Linked DNA regions of Homo sapiens: region 2 is linked to region 1. A link means that fine-mapping ties the variant in region 1 to the expression of a gene that starts in the linked region. Tissue or cell type: whole blood. Region 1 holds a variant in brackets; the other region holds the start of a gene. All regions are shown on one strand. Distances are from middle to middle.

Region 1 (8,206 bases):
CCACATAAGGAAGTGATGTTTGTACTTATAATGACAGATATAGATTTGAATTTAGGAAGTTGGATACTGTGGAAAGTAAATTACTATGTAAATAGTCATTCTGATTATATTCTCACATAAAGAAAAGAGTAGGGAGAAGGAATTTGTTCCAATTAACCTCGTGCAGACTGCTGTAAACTGGGAGCCACAAAATAGCAAGAGCCAAGCAGTTGCCCTACATGTAAAACATGTCCAAGTTTAAGCCTGGAGAGGTGGAGAGGAGGAGCCTCATTCACCTGAACAAACTCAATCAGAATTCAGAGGCTGCTGAATTTACTCTTTAAACCACATGATTATAGGTGTATAATTATAATGTGGCTAAGATGCCTCATCAGACCAACTGGTCTGAGACCTAAATAGTTCAATCAAAACCGTCAGAAATAGATTCTATAAGAAAAGGTATTTTCTAAGCTTTTGGATTGAAGGACAATCAAGCATAGGCACTATCCATGAGACATTTCAAGTTATTTGAAGTCCAGAATATGTAAAATAAATAAATAAGTGAAGAAAGAATAAACAATAAACAAGAAAATTAAAATCCTACTATTAAATTTGTTACGTGAATTCCTCATTATAAAATTGATAATATTTTGCTCATCTTCTTAATTTTACATAATTTTCTTTGTAAAGAAAAAATGTTTCTTGAATCATGATGTATTTTATTAAAATCTGTCAAAAATTAAAAAGTCACATTTTAATATGTATATATTTCCAAGTACAAACAGTAGCTGTAACTAACTTAGAGTTGACTAAAATAAATTGATTTTCTTGACAGATTTCTTATCCTAGTGGACAAAATGTGAACTGCTAAAATTAAAGTGTTTAAAGGTCTTAAAATGGCTGCCTCCAGCACAGGAACTTAAAGGAGATACTAAGAACTTTGCTCATATGTTAACTTGCACAATAACTTTTTATATCTTGAAATAATAAAAATGTGTGCATAAACATGTATCTAAATTGGAAACTTTGGGTTCTATAGGAAGCAAATACACAGACAGGTATAGTGGTTTTGAAGTTGGGGCTGAAGATCAATGCCTGTGAAGATAAAAGGGAAAGGAAGCAAGATTGGGCAAATTCGAAAAAATTTTAACCAACCCAAAGGGGATCTCTGAGTCCCGCCATAGGCCATCCTAGGCTCAGTCATTGTCTGGGGCACACTGAGAAGAGGTCAGCCTTGGTACAAATGCTGCAGGTGGCCCCAAAGATGCTATGGCTGGAAGGTGTCAACCAACTGTACTCCTCACAGGTGAAAGGCAGGTGCTTTCTTGTCACACCAAATAACTTCTTAAAATTTACCTGATAAAGTTTATTTTGGAGATTTTATTCTATCTACCATGCACAAACTTTCAGAAAGGCAGTTGCACTACCGTCAGAAGACATGGAATACAAAATTGTTCCCAGAAACATCTATATCACTTGTGGAGTACGTTAGTTGCAGAAATCATCTATATAAATGAAATATTATAGTAAACTACCATATTATTTTAAAGATATTTTTAAGAAGAGTATTTTATTGCTATAAATTTATTCAATAAATTCAAATTTATAGTACATATTTATTATAAATTTTAATAATAAGAATAATAAAGGCTATTTTCATGAACACAGACATTCGGAATTGGAGGTTATGGATGACAGTTACAGTAATATTGCCACCTAGTCTGTTTGTGCTGCTACAACAAAATACCACAGACTGAGTAATTTACAAATAAAAGAAATTTATTTGTTACAACTCTGGAGACTGGAAGCTCAAGACTAAGGCATTGGCATTGGTCTGCTTAGGGCCTTCTTGCTACATCCTCACATGGCATAAGACAGAGGGCAAGGTAGCCAAAGGCTGTGTGAAGCTTCCTTTGAAAGAGCTTTAATCCCAGTAAGCCCTCATGGCCTAATTACCTTACAAAGGCCCAGCTTCTTAAAATCATCACATTGGCAACACCTGAATTTTGAAGGGACCACATTCAAACAATACCACCACCTTCACATCCAATGTATTTTGAGGTTTTTTTCTATTGCATAGAACCTAGGAAATCTTCTGATGATTAGTTGCAACTGGTAACCATTTTTGCTACTTAATAATCACAGGACGCATTCAACAAAGTAAGGATGGTAAGAGAAAAAGTTTGGTGCAAATAAAACAATATGTCAGTAATTTCAAATTGTTAATATTTGGTAAATACTTTTAAGAGTAATGTTGATTTTTTAATAACTGAAGTATATATAAAAATGAAGACTAGATTAAAACTATGCAGAAATTCTGAACCTCACAGTTCAAAAATTATTATTCCGTGCTATAATGGGGGATCCACAGCAATAACTTTTCTAACTCACTAGTGTTAAAAAGGCTTGAATACTCCTGAATAGCAATTTATATGCTGGAGGAAATTGATGAAATGAGTGGTTAATAAATTTCCCAGCTTCTGTTATGATGCACCAGATCTTTTTAAGTGATGTTCTTAATTTAGCAATGAAATAAAAAAATCAAAGAGAGAGAAAGTGAGAACATTATGTTTACATGTAAACAATTTGAAATTAATACCTTATTTTCAGACACCCATAATTAATTATTCTCTTAATTTTATGCAGTAAGTGGCAAAGAGATGGGATAAAATCTTGGTTTGATGCTTCTGTAAATTTATAGAATACTGTGTTACTGCTTTTTCCTCTTCTTTATGCTATTTTAAGTAAGGTCAGTTGTTGTTCTTTCTAATTATTATTTTACACATTTGGAGGATTCCTAGAGCATTTTTTTTCTCCCAATAAATCATCTCTGTTCACTAATAGGCAAAGGGTCATAAACTCTTCTATGACTATGGGAGATTTAAATCTCAACAACTGTTTCCTAACTGCAGACAACTTTATTAAGAAATGAATGGAAAAAGGAAAAAATATAAGACTGTAAATGTGTTACCTCAGTAACTAGTGGTTGCCTATTTCTTTGCTTTCAGCTTCATAGGGCAAATTGGTGCACCCTACAGAGATTTGCAGGTGGAGGAGCAGGTACTCTTTACACAATTATCTATGGAAACCAAATTTAGACAATAATGGGAGGACACAGCAGAAAGATGGATTTCTGTGAGCCCCAATTCATGCAATTCCAGTGCATTTGTGCACTCTCTCTGTCTCTGTTTCTTTCTCTGTCACACACACACATACACACACACACACACACTCTTACATATTGTCCCACCAAATTTGCCATTAAGGTTTTATGCTACTTACTTCCTGACCCTGTTTCAGAGCAGAGGTCCTTAACAGGTTTCAAGTGTGCTGAACTGTAAGTCTTCATAGCACCTAGGACCCTTGCTGGGAACCCAGGGCATACATGGCAAATGGTGTTTCTCCTCAACCCTCTCCTCTCAGTTCTGACCTGAGACTCAATCTTCCTCCATGTACCACAGCATAACTTACCAACGTTCCCATTTCCCATTATGTCATGTGTTAACTTGAGAAACTCTGTGAAACATTAGAGATCATTAGCTTAATTGTGAGACCTATTTGCTTCAGTGTTGAGTTACCCCTTTTACCTTAAATCTGTGCATGTCACATCAGTAAGAGGAAATTTAATACAGGTCAGGAGCAATTATATGCATATTTCTTTAGTGTTGATTATCACATAATTTACAAAATCAGATTCTAAAATTAGTCATTCATTAAATGCTTACTGAAGATTAACCTAAATGCTAGTTTTCAGGCATACAAAAATTAAATATTCAATTATTTTTATTATTTTTAAGATTTTTAATAAACAATGTATGGCATCATAACAGTTGTATTATTTTTTTT[A/TA]ATTTTTATTTTTCAACTTTTGTTTTAGATTCAGGGGATGCATGTGCAGGTTTGTCACCAGGGTATATTGCATGATGCTGAAGCTTGGGGGTGCAATGAACCCATCACCCAGGTACTGAGCATAGTACCCAACAAATAGATAGTTTTCCACCCCTCGGCCCCTCCCTTCCTTGCTCCTCTAGTAGTCTCCAGTGTCTATTGTTTCCATCTTTATGTCCATAAGTACCTGATGTTTAGTTCCCATTTATAAGCGAGAACATGTGGTATTGAGTTTCCTGTTCTTGCATTAATTAATTCATTTGGGATAAAAGTTTAAAGATAGAAGAATTGCAATCAAATTAGAATTAATGCATTTCTTTAGCAAAATTATATTTACTTGCCTATTTCTTTGTCTTTTTCTTTGAATATATATAGTTTTCATAACAATTCTTTTTTTTTTTTTTAATTGAGATAGGGTTTTGCTCTTTCATCCAGGCTGGAGTGCAGTGGTGTGATTATGGCTCACTGCAGCCCTGACCCTCCACATTCAAGCAATCCTTCCACTTCAGCCTCCTGAGCAGTTGGGACCACAGGTGCATGCCACTACAACTGGCTCGTTTGTTTTGCTTTGTTTGCCTGTTTGCTTTTTTTTTATAGAGACAGGGTCTCCCTATGTTGCCCAGGATGGTACTGCCTTGGCCTCCCAAAGTGCTGGGATTACTGGTATACACCACTGCACCAGGCCAAATTTTAACTACTGTATACATAGATATCTATATATTGCTTTTGCCAAGCAACATTACTAAGCATTTTCTGTGTTTCTTTATATTCTACCTAACTGGCCCTATTGATGGTTGCATAATTGTCCATCAAGTTGATATGCCATTTACAACCAAGTTGATATGCCATTTTGTTAACCATTGAATAAATATTCCTAAATCAATATATGTTTAGTTAGCTTCGATTATCCTAGTGTATAACACCAACATGAGTGTCTGGATATGTGTAAACAACAATGTATACATATCAAAATGCAAAAGCATAAATATGATTCTCAATAGCTTTTGTCAAAACATTTTCCAAGAGTTGTACTGAATGTCACCGCCACCAGTGATGTATGAGCATAACATTTTAACAGCACTTTCGTCATCAGTGACTCTTTGCTATTAACTCTTGAGTTATCTTTAGTTTTAAGAAGACTGGTGGTAAAAAGAAATCCAGTTCTTTTTTCAAGCCCCATGTTGAGTTTTATCAACAACCTTTCTCTCTGACCCTTTATCATAATGAGAGCAGCAAAAGCGGCTGGTATTCTGTGCCAAGCCTTTTATTTCCTCATGATAAAATTATTTTTTTTTTCCTTTTGACTTGTCTGAAAAGCCAGACTAATGTCACCTGGACCTTAGGGCTGCTCAACCGCAGCAGGAGGACACCAGGGAAGCCCAGGCAGCATGCACAGTGATGCCTGACTTTGCAATAGTAAGTTTCTTCTCCTCCAGGATTTGTCAATTTTGATTTTGCAGCTCAGTCAGCAATGCCATGTGCTGTTTGCCTCCTGTCTGAGTTACAAAATAAAGAGTCATTTTCTCTTCCAAGGTGACAAATTTAAAAAAATAAAAATAAAAACCTTTATCTTTCCATGTCTATTATATTTTCTACCTGGATGACATACACTTTTGAGCATATGAACCATAGAAACTCTGAGGAAAAGGAGATATTGTAGAAGCTGGGCATGTTACACCATCTGCTCCTACATGAACAGAACTCCCCTCAAATATTAACCATCATTATTATTATATGAAAATGGTGGGTAATAAGGAGATAAAATGTATAGAATAAGGACAAATTTCCTTAGGATTAATTATTAATATTGAAATCTGAAATTTTAGGAAATGTAAATAGTCTAAATAGTAAAATATGTTATGTCTTTGATCGCTAATAAAATGATAGAAGTTTTAATGCAGATTTATCAACCTTTTCTTCTGGGATTGCTTGCTCATATATTGCTTATGTTCTAAATTCTAAGACTCTGTTCCCCTTTGTTTTTGTTTTTATTATTGCTATTTTAACATGATTTTTAACTGTTAGCACACAAACCATACATATGCATTGTTGAAATATTCACAAATGCAGAAAAATAACAAAACAAGAAGAAGATCACCTATAATTCCACTGTTTAGAAATATGCATCATTAGACATATGGGTATTGTTTTAGTCCATTTTCACACTGCCAGTAAAGACATACCTGAGATTGGGTAATTGATACAGGGAAGAGGTTTAATGGATTCACAGTTCCACATGGCTGGGGAGGCCTCACAATCATGGTGGAAGGCAAGGAGGAGCAAATCATGTTTTACATGGATGGCAGCAGGCAAAGAGAGAGCTTGTGTGGGGAAACACCTCCCTCACTGATAAGTTGTGATCCTCTGTATCAGCTTCTGTGTCTCTAATTTTATGGGCAATTTTTTGCTCTGTGAAACCAGAAGAGACCAGGGGCATTGCAAAGATTGTAAATATTGAAGAAAATGATCTAGAAGAAGTATGTAGTCAATGCCTGGCAATATGTCAATTTCAGGAAGGGTGAGAAATTATTAAATAATTGTGGTCATTTATTATCTATATATTGAATATCTCTAATTACCTTAGGATAGCATCCCAGATGTAAAATTGGTAGGTACATCTAGAGTTACAGCCCAACAGGTTCTTCTTGCCCACTGCTCAGAAAATCCAAACACTGGGAACAACAGGAGTTTCAGTAAGAGAAAGAGTTCAAGAATTGTAGGGCCAACCGAGGTGGATGGTGGGAGATTTTTCACAAATCCACCTCCCCAAGAGCTCAGAGGTTAGGGTTTTTTAAGGAAAATTTGGAGGGCAGGGGGATGGGAAATGTGTGCTGATTGACTGGGGATGAAATCATCGAAGTGTCCAAACTGACTTTGCATACTGAGTCAGTTTCTGGGTTGGGGGGGTCACAGAACTGGTGAATCAGTTCCTTGGTATGAGTCATGGGTCCCGTCCGGGTTAAGTCAATCAGTTGCCAGAATGCAAAATTCTGGAATATATCTCAAAGCTCAATCTTAGGTTTTACAATAGCGATGTTCTCCACAGGAGCAATTAGAAAGTTAGAAATCTTGTGACCTCCAGCTACATGACTCCTGAAAAGTAAGAGATTATAGAAAAGCAAGCTAAGGAACAAGGGGTCGCTATTTAACTATACCTACATCTTAGCAGAACTCAGGCCCCTCTCGTAATCCTATCCTTGTGGCCTTTCATTAGTCTTACAAAGGTGGTTTTAGTCCCTGGAGGGAGTCAGTTTTGGGAGGAGTTGTTATCATCCCTGCTTCAACGTTAAACTATAAACTAAATTCTTCCCACAGTTAGATTGGTCTGTGCCCAAGGATGAGTAAAGGTAGTTAGCTTTTGAGGTCAGAAACAAGATGGAGTCGGGTTAGAGTTCTCTCATTGTTATAATTTTTACAAAGGTGGTTTCAACAGTCTTTTAGTCTGGTTATTATGGTAAAATATTATTGAACATTTCAAATTTATTTCTTCCAAAAAATATGAATTACATGTATCCAACTGCTGCTTGGAATATGCAAGTATTATTGTTGCCATGCTGTGTATGTTTGTAAAGTTGATCTTTTCCACTTTTCTTTCTGTTTATTACCTTCAAAACTTCTTCTTTTAATTTTAATATCTATTTTAAAAATGTCTTCATATTTCATAATGTAGTGATTGTGTAATGACTTAGCAAAATGGACCAGGTATCTCTGGTTTAGCCAAAAAATACAAGAGAATATAGCTTATCTAAAATTATGTTTTAAAGCAGAGAACTGGTTTTGATATTAAATATTGGTAAGAACCTTTCTTATTTTACTACTTAGCTTAGTCTGGTCACAAAAGAAAGACTTTCCAGTTTTTAAATATTTATCTTAAATAAATTGTTACCAATATTTGCTTTCTTTTTTTCAATTAGTATAGATTCCAAGTTATTAATGTAAATTTAAAGTACATGCTATAAATGAGTGATAAGAAATGCTCACTTCTGATGTGCAAAGGAGCCCTCAGTAAATCACCTTCAAGATTGAGGAAAGTCCTTGTTTCTTATTCAATAGGCTTAATGTAGAAAAGGAAACAAAGAATAAAGGAGGAAAGGGAGGGCAGAAGAGAGAGAGAGAGACAAAAGGAGGAAGGAGAACCAAGTGCCAACTCTTCACATAGCATACACACATTCCAAATCTGGACATAGCTTTCAAGAGATAATAAGAGGACTGAGAAATGGTAGAGCCTTCACAAGCATAATACTAGTTTCCAATATTTAACTAGTAAATTTTTGGGAAAGGAATTACTGCATAGACTTATTTTCTTCTATGTATGAGATCTAATAACTTCTACTCCTTTTAT
Region 2 (8,179 bases), 400 kb after region 1:
ACTACTCCTTGTTCTTAAAAGTTACTTATTTGGCTGGTCACAGTGGCTCACACCTGTAATCCCAGCACTCTGGGAGGCCAAGGCCAGCAGATCACTAGGTCAGGAATTTGAGACTAGTCTGGCCAACATAGTGAAACCCCATCTTTACTAAAAATACAAAAGATTAGCAGGGTGTGGTGGTGTGCACCTGAAATCCCAGCTACTCGGGAGGCTGAGACAGGAGAATCGCGTGAACCCAGGAGGCAGAGGTTGCAGTGAGCCGAGGTCACGCCATTGCACTCCAGCCCGGGGGACAGTGCTAGACCCTGTCTCAAAAAAAAAAAAAGTTACTTCTTTTTTCTTTCTGCTCTCTGATTTTCTTTTTCATTGCTAATGATTTTCAACGAGGGGGATATGTAATTTTAAAAGGTATATTTATATAGTCTAGTTTATCTTTAGTTGGTATAAATCATTTGCCTTTTAAAAAGCATATTTAGTATTATTTTATCCTTCAGAATCTTTTTAAAAATAGCTTTGAGACATAATTCACATACCATACAATTCATCCATTTAAAGTGTACAATTAGTTTTTAGTATATCCACAGAGCCATGAAACCATAACCACAACTAATTTTAGAAAATGTGTACCAAGAAGAAATCGCATATCCACTTGCACTCACTCTTCGTTTCCCCTGCCCTCCAGCCCTAGGAAGCTAAAAATCTGCTTTCTTTCTCTGTAGATTTGCATATTCTGAACATTCCATATACATGGAATCATATAATATGTGGTCTTTTGTGAGTGGTTTCTTTCACTTGCTATGTTTTTAAGGTTCAACTGTGATGTAGCACATTATCAGTAACTCTTTGGCTTTGTAATGCAAACTATTGAAAAGCAAACATGTGACATGAGACTCAAATACCAAGAAAGAAAGGTTTCAAAATATTTATTGAGGATCTCCTATTTGCCACCGTTAGCTAGTAAACGCATATGGATCATTCTCTAATTGTTATCTTCATTCCTACATGATCTATTAGGCACCAGAATTACATTTCCAGCTGCCATATTGACTTGGGTATCCAGGAGCTGACACCTTGAACTTAGTTCTCCCTCTTTCAAGGCCTTCTTTATTTTTGCTAGACAGAATTCCCCCAGGCTCAGAAGTTCAATCTTTAATTCCCTTTTCACTTTCATATCCAATCAGTCACCAAATCTTATAAACTCTATTTCTCAAATATTTTCTCTGTTTTGGTGTGTCAAAAATGTTATGGGTTGAATTGTATTTCTCCACAAAAAGATACACTGAAGTCTTAACCTAACATTACCTCAGAATATGACCTTATTTGGAAATATAATAATTGCAGATATAATTAGTTAAGATGAGGTCATACTGAAATAGGGTGTGTCCTTCATTCAATAAGGCTGGTGACCTAATAAAAAGAACACTATGTGAAGAGACAGAGACACAGGAAAATGCCATGTCACAATGGAGGCAGAGATCCAAATGATGCAACTATAAGCCAAGAAATGCCAAAGATTGCTGGCCATCACCAGAAGCTAGGAGAGAGGCATGGAATAATTCTCCTTCAGAGCCCCCAGAAAGAACCAAACCTGTGGACACCTTGATTTTTAGCCCCTAGAACTAGGGTAAGGTGACAAATTTTTGTTGCTTAAATTACCTAGTGTGTGGTACTTAATCACTACAGCCCTAGGTAACTAATACAGACACTAAATGACTTCATAATAGTTTAGGCATTCATTATATCATGCATCCCAAATCTTTATTTCATCATTTTATCTGCTACCCCAGACCAAGCCATCATCATTTCATGCCTAGGCAATGTTAATCACCTCCTAATTGTCTCCCTTGTCTCCCACAAGAATGGCACCCCTATTGCCATTCTTGTATCCTTATAATTCATTTGCCACATAGAATATTTTAATAATTAAACCATATCATATCAGTGTTCTGCTGAAAACTCTCCAATAGCATCCCTTAAATGGACATTAAAGGGCCTATATGAACGAACAGCTGCCTAGCTCTTGCACCACAATTCCTGCCACTCCTCATTACACACCGGGTATGCTAGATTTTTTTTTTTTTTTAAAAGACCAATTCAATTCCTCCATTGCACGAACTCTGCCATTCTGGAATGCTCTTCCTCTCATGGCTCATTTCTTCTTGTCATCACACTTCAGCTTAAATGTCAGTTCTGAACGGCCTTTCTTGACGACCGGAACTAACACAGATATTTGCTCAGTTTTAATTCTCGACAATGCACTTACCACTATCTGACATTGTTTTGTATTATTTTATGTATTTCACTGGTAATTGTGTCTCCTCTCCCTCCTACCCCCAATAGAGTATGACAACTGGGACTTGTCTTATCATTTATCCACAGTACGTGGGAAAATGGCCGGCACATGGGACTTCAATAAATATGTGCTCAATGGTGAACCACCTAGGTAGGCAGATATGTACGCTAGGATCGTGCTCGTGGGGAGCTTAGGTTCTAAAGGGAAAGGTCAATAAATAGGAGAAAAACAAACACCTAGATTCTGTTAACTGTTGCATAGAAGAGATTGAAGTTATACAGAAGACACTGAGGAGTCTATAATCAGAAGTTTCTCAGGTATGAGGTGACATTTTTGCTGAGGCTGGAATGAAGGCTTGGAAAAAATTAAGCAAGTAGAGCTCAGCTCCCTGAAAATTTCCAACAGAGAGAACAGCAAGCAAATAATCTTAGAGGCTATTATACAACAAATTCACTGAGTTCCAGGAAAGTCAGTGTGACTAGAGCATAGTAAAACTGGAAAATGATGAGAAAAGTGGCTGGAAAGGTAGTCAGGGTCCAGATTATACAAGCCTTGTTAGAGAATGATAAGCTGTTTCTATTTTACCCTAAGTGAAATACTATGCTATTTAAGTTGCTAAATGACATCGTCTGATTTACTCAGTGTAGAGTCTCACCAAACTGTGTCCCCAACCACCAGCATCAGAATCACTTCTGAGCTTGTTAAAAATGCAATCTGAAGCACCACATCGGAACTCAATTAAGATCCCTAGGTGATTCATATGCACATTAAAGTGTGAGAAACACTGGTACAGAGAATGGAGTAGAGGTGAGAAAGAGTAGAAGAGGGGAAGTCAGTTAGAGAGCTACATTCTGGTCCAAGTGAAGGAAAACAGTGGCCTGCATAAGAGTGACAGCAGGAAGGATGAGAAGACGGATTCTAGGTCACGTTTTGCAGACAGTTTGTTTAGGTCTCCTAGCCAGCTAAATGGAAATCTCAGTAGACAGGCAGTGATACAAGCCTGGGTTTCTGAAAAAAGTTTAGGCTTGGAGATGTAGATCTGTGGGTCTGTTATTAATAGTTGTCCTGCTTCGGGTTTTTATTTTTTTTTAATTTTCTTCCTTTTTTAGTGCTTTATATTTTACAAATGTCTGCAGCAGTTTTTTGTCATCTTTATGGAAAACAAGGCACGTCTTAAAGTCGTTCAAGTCCTTCACTTTTTCACACTGAGGTCTGTCTTCATATCCACTTATCTTTCAAGTCTATGAAACCCCTTATAAAAACTTTCCTTTGAAATATTTTAAAATTCAAGGCCCACGGCTGATTAATACTGTTTCTCCTCCATAACCCCTAGGATCCTCCAGTTCTGGGTTTTAACAAGAAAAATATCCTCAATCCTCTCTAGTTTCTAGGTGTAAAGCAGCTTGGACCCTCCTGGGTTTGGTGGGTCCATCTCTCTTGGAGTCCAACTCTGTATTCCTAAAAAGCAATTATTGAAATAGAAGCTAGTCAGTTAATGGCAATAAAAGAAGGGAATTCCAAGTGGGAGCTTCCCAAGCCAAGAGGAAGAGAGGTTTCTTGCCTTATCACTGTAAGTGGCAGAGTGGAGTTCCAATTCAATGATATCATTTGTGTTATCAAAGGTAGTTTAATCGTTGAAAAGCTTGTTAACAATTATAAACACAGGCAAATGCCTTTTCCTTTTTGGCCTTACGGAGAATGAGAAAAGTTCTTCCCATGGCTAAAATTCTTAGCTGTTGGTAATGCAGAAAAGAGTACCAGAACAGCAGAATTCCAACGGTATTCCAGGATTCTGTGTCTTGGTTAATTTTAAATTCACGTGACCTGGCAAACTTAGGAGAGTCCTGGTTGTAAGAGGTATTAACATTTTCAGCAGTAGTACTCTAGCTACACTTGACTGTTCCCCTCTCTGTGAATTTACATGATATGTTTGAAATACTGCCCCTCAAAAGTCTCAGAACTTTGAGAAATACGGTCCTTTCCAAAAAAACCCCTTATGTCCAATTTGAAGGGGTCGCTGTCAGTGGGTGCTTAAGTGGGTAAAGAAAAGCCAAGAATATGTCAGGGTGAGGAAGGCCAAGGCTGAGCGAGGTCAGCTTGGGACCCACCTCCTAGAATGACCTCCGCCAGCAGGAAAAAACCGTTAAGGGGAGGAAAGGGCAGGTCCCTGCGGCCTCCAGGTGCCAGCCGCGTGAGTGGGCGGAGAGGCCTCGGTGCCTCCTACCCGCTCCGGACGTGCGTCCCGGCATCACCCCGGGATCCGCTCCTCCCCGCTGGCGGGGGGAGAAAGGGCAGGAGGCCTTCCGTCCCGGCTATAAAGGGCCCCGGACCGCCGCGGCTCGCCTCGGCTTGCCTCGACACGCCTAGGCGCCCTCCGGCTCCGCCCTAGCCGCCGCGTCCCAGCTAGAGCTCCAGCGCCCGCTCAGGCCCCACTCGACCTCTCGGGCCTCGGCTACTTGGACTGCGGCGGAATATGGCGGCTCCGATGACTCCCGCGGCTCGGCCCGAGGACTACGAGGCGGCGCTCAATGCCGCCCTGGCTGACGTGCCCGAACTGGCCAGACTCCTGGAGATCGACCCGTACTTGAAGCCCTACGCCGTGGACTTCCAGCGCAGGTACCGCCGGAATCCCACCACCCCCACTTAGACAGGCAGCCCGCCTCCCAGGAGCCGTCTCGGGACACGGGCCGCCCCTCGGCCCTCGCGCGCCAACCCCGCCCCAGGCGGGGAGGAACCTGAGTGGGCGGGGCTCGGGGTGACTCGGGTAACCGGGTTCTGTGGCTTCCGTAGTGGCAGGTTTGACAGCGCTGGTGCCCGGAGCGGGCGCTGAAGAAACTTCTTTCCTCATCCCCTTTCCCCTCTGTTCTAATCAGCGGTCTTGCGCCATAGGGTACGTGCTGTGGCTCCAACACTTATTCCCCAGAGTGCTGCTGGGGAGTGACTCACCGCCGCTGCAGGTTTTCTGACTTTGGCACCCACTAGCGTGGGCCTGTGGAGTAACGTGGGCATAACTCCTGGCACGTGTAATTACGCATTTAAAACTTTCTAGTTTATTTCATAGCAAATGTTGTGATTTTATATCTAAGAGGATTCCTTCAGGCAGACACTATATCCTTTTGTTTTTTCCTTGCTAATATTCCTCATTTAGGGGAAGATTACACCTACATTGATCAATTTTTTCTCCCCTTGGATCAACATTGAGAAGTTAAATGTACATCAACATTTGTCCGTGTGTGACTTTAACCATCTTGAAGAGGGAGAAAGGTCAGGAAAGCAACTTTTACAGGCCAATGTCGTTTTAGCTTGTCTTCTACCATTGTGTACCATACAACTTTAGTTACTGGGCTAATAATTCTATTCATAAGTTCCACTAAAAAGGTACAGGTCTTTTTCTGTTGTCGTTGTTGTTTGAAGTAAAAGAGCTATTATACAAGTTGTAATAGTTATACTTGTGAGGTTACCCCATTTTGATTTAATAGTTTCTCCCCTTTTAGGAGAGACACTGCAGAATGGAAACTATCCTGGCAACAGAATATACATGGCCAATTTTTCGAGTGATGGAAAACATCCAACTAGTTAACTGGCATGAAGGAGCGTTGAGAGTAATGAAAATGGGTTGATTTGGAGTTTGAAAAAAGCCCAGCAAATTGTTTGTGTCCTAGCATTTTCAGGTATTAAATGCATTCAAATCAGCAAGTGTTTATTGAGGAACTCCTATAAATAAAACACTGCTCTAGGGATTGTAAGGGATGTGAAGTTTCATTCTTGAGCTTGTATATAGTAGTGAATGAGGCCTCTGTAAAATAATCACCTTGAGCTGTCCCTCACTTAATCAGATGATTATGCTCTTATATAAACCATATGAGGAGCAGCCTTGTGAAATTGTTTTCAGAATTTACAGTATATGCTTTCAGAGAAACTTAGTGCATAATCGTCATAGGTTTAAGGTTGGATTTGATTTAGAAATAGTCAGAAAAAATTTAGAACAAAAGATAGTGATTAAAGGTAGTGGTTAGATTTTTTTTTTGATGTCCTTGTAACCATGACATTAATTTACCTGTGTGCTTTGTAAAAGGACACTTAAGATATTTATTAAAGAAGAGTTGTGGAAATGTTTTATCTACACCCCCTTCCTTTTTTTTTTAAATGACACAAACAGATTAACATTCTTTATTAAGTGTTTCTTTCATGTACTTTATTTCCAACTCCACTGGGATTGAAGCATTTATAATCTTCTTTCATGGTTTGCCAAAACTAATGAAGGGAACAAAGGCCAAGATAAAGAAGGGAAGAGAATCCAGTGTGCTTGGTGAAAAGTCTCGTCCAGTGGGCCCTCATGCCTCACTCTGACCCGGATTTTACTTTTGTCCTTGGTTCTGAGTAATGGCCATTTGCTAGCATACATGTTCCATTTAGGCATATCAAATAGTAATTTGGCATTTGTTAGTGGTAACTTCTATTGTTAACACTTGAAGAATAAAACATTTTTCCTTCATACAATCTGGTCTTAGTTCCTTGTCCAATTTTCCATTTATTTCTGATAATCCATTTGGACTGTGTGTCTTTGGCCTAACACAAATACATAACCAGTCAAACACTTAGGTGCAAAGTATGCTTACTAAGGAGTGAAGAAAATTTGAGGTACAAACAACAGTATATAATTAAGGTGATGAAGAAGGAAATTTCTCTTTGATGGACTGTCTCATCCTTCCCCAACAGATATCTTTTGATTTGAAATTTTTTGGATGTTCCCTTAGGATGTTTTGGATGTTCCTTCCCTTCTTTACCTTGGCCTTTTCCCCTTCTGTATTAGTCCGTTTTCATGCTGCTGATAAAGACATACCTGAGACTGGGCAATTTACAAAAGGAAGAGGTTTATTGGACTTACAGTTCCAAGTGGCTGAGGATGCCTCGCAATCATGGCAGAAGGTGAAAGTCATGTCTCACATGGTGGCAGACAAGAGAAGAGAGCTTGTGCAGGGAAACTCCCCTTTTTAAAACCATCAGGTCTCGTGAGACTTACTTACTATCAGGAGAACAGCGTGGGAAAGACCTGCCCCCATGATTCAGTTACCTCCCATCAGGTCCCTCCCACAACACGTGGGAATTCAAGATGAGATCTGAGTGGGGACACAACCAAACCATATCACCTTCATTAGTTGTTCTTTTCACCTTCTGTACCTGTGAGAATTTTGAATCAAGTGTAGAGGATTAATGAGTTACTCTGCTATAAAATAAAAATTAGTACATTATTAGCATGACTGACCACCTCCATGTTGTCTCATTGATGACCTCCCAAAATAGCATTTTCCACTTGATTTTTCTACCTTTTATTTAGTTATTTACTTGTTGTTACACTACAATTAGTTGTTATAATTCCAAAATCTTAGTGCTTTAAAACAACATTTAATTGTTCCCATATTACATGTCAGCATGAGTCAGCCAGAGGGCCCTCCTCATGGCAGTCACTCAAAAATCTAGGCTTATGAAGGATTTGTTTTGAAACATGCTTCTGTAGAGGTGGTCACAGTGCAAAGAGAAGCATGTTGAACTATGCACTATTTCTTACAGCTTTTGCCTAGCAGTGAGTCCATTCTGCTGATACGTTACATTGGCCAGTGCCCATCAGCTTGCCATGTGGGTGAAACAGAGAATTGGCATTTGTGAACATTGTCAAAACAACACAATTTAATAATACTACTTTATACCCTCTGTTTAATGTTTATAAAGTACTTTCAGATCCGGTATTTAATGTAATCCTCATAACAAAACCATGAGGTAGACAGACGGTGGGCATTTTTCCTGTTTTGCAGATGAAGAAACTAAGTGATGGGCTTGAGCATATATGGCATAAGTAAGTGCTGCAACTGTGATTAATCTTTCTTT

Evidence for each region. PIP is the estimated chance that this variant, and not a neighbour inherited with it, causes the effect.
Region 2: GBE1 starts here. The variant in region 1 is fine-mapped to the expression of GBE1 in whole blood (TOPMed, PIP above 0.99).

Annotation. Positions count from the first base shown.
Region 1 is chr3:82,156,735-82,164,940 of GRCh38, reverse strand. All of the region lies in intron 1 of LINC02008 (long intergenic non-protein coding RNA 2008), which reads right to left. Among named protein-coding and RNA genes, the nearest start is that of LINC02008, 170 kb to the right of the region's middle. The variant A/TA (reference allele first, on the strand shown) is at 3,826.
Region 2 is chr3:81,758,105-81,766,283 of GRCh38, reverse strand. It overlaps GBE1 (1,4-alpha-glucan branching enzyme 1), which reads left to right and starts at 4,639. Exons shown (of 16, transcript NM_000158.4): 1 at 4,639-4,909. The coding sequence starts at 4,767. RefSeq lists silencers at 4,411-4,510, 5,011-5,090, 7,672-7,966 and enhancers at 4,166-4,774, 4,561-4,850, 5,191-5,360.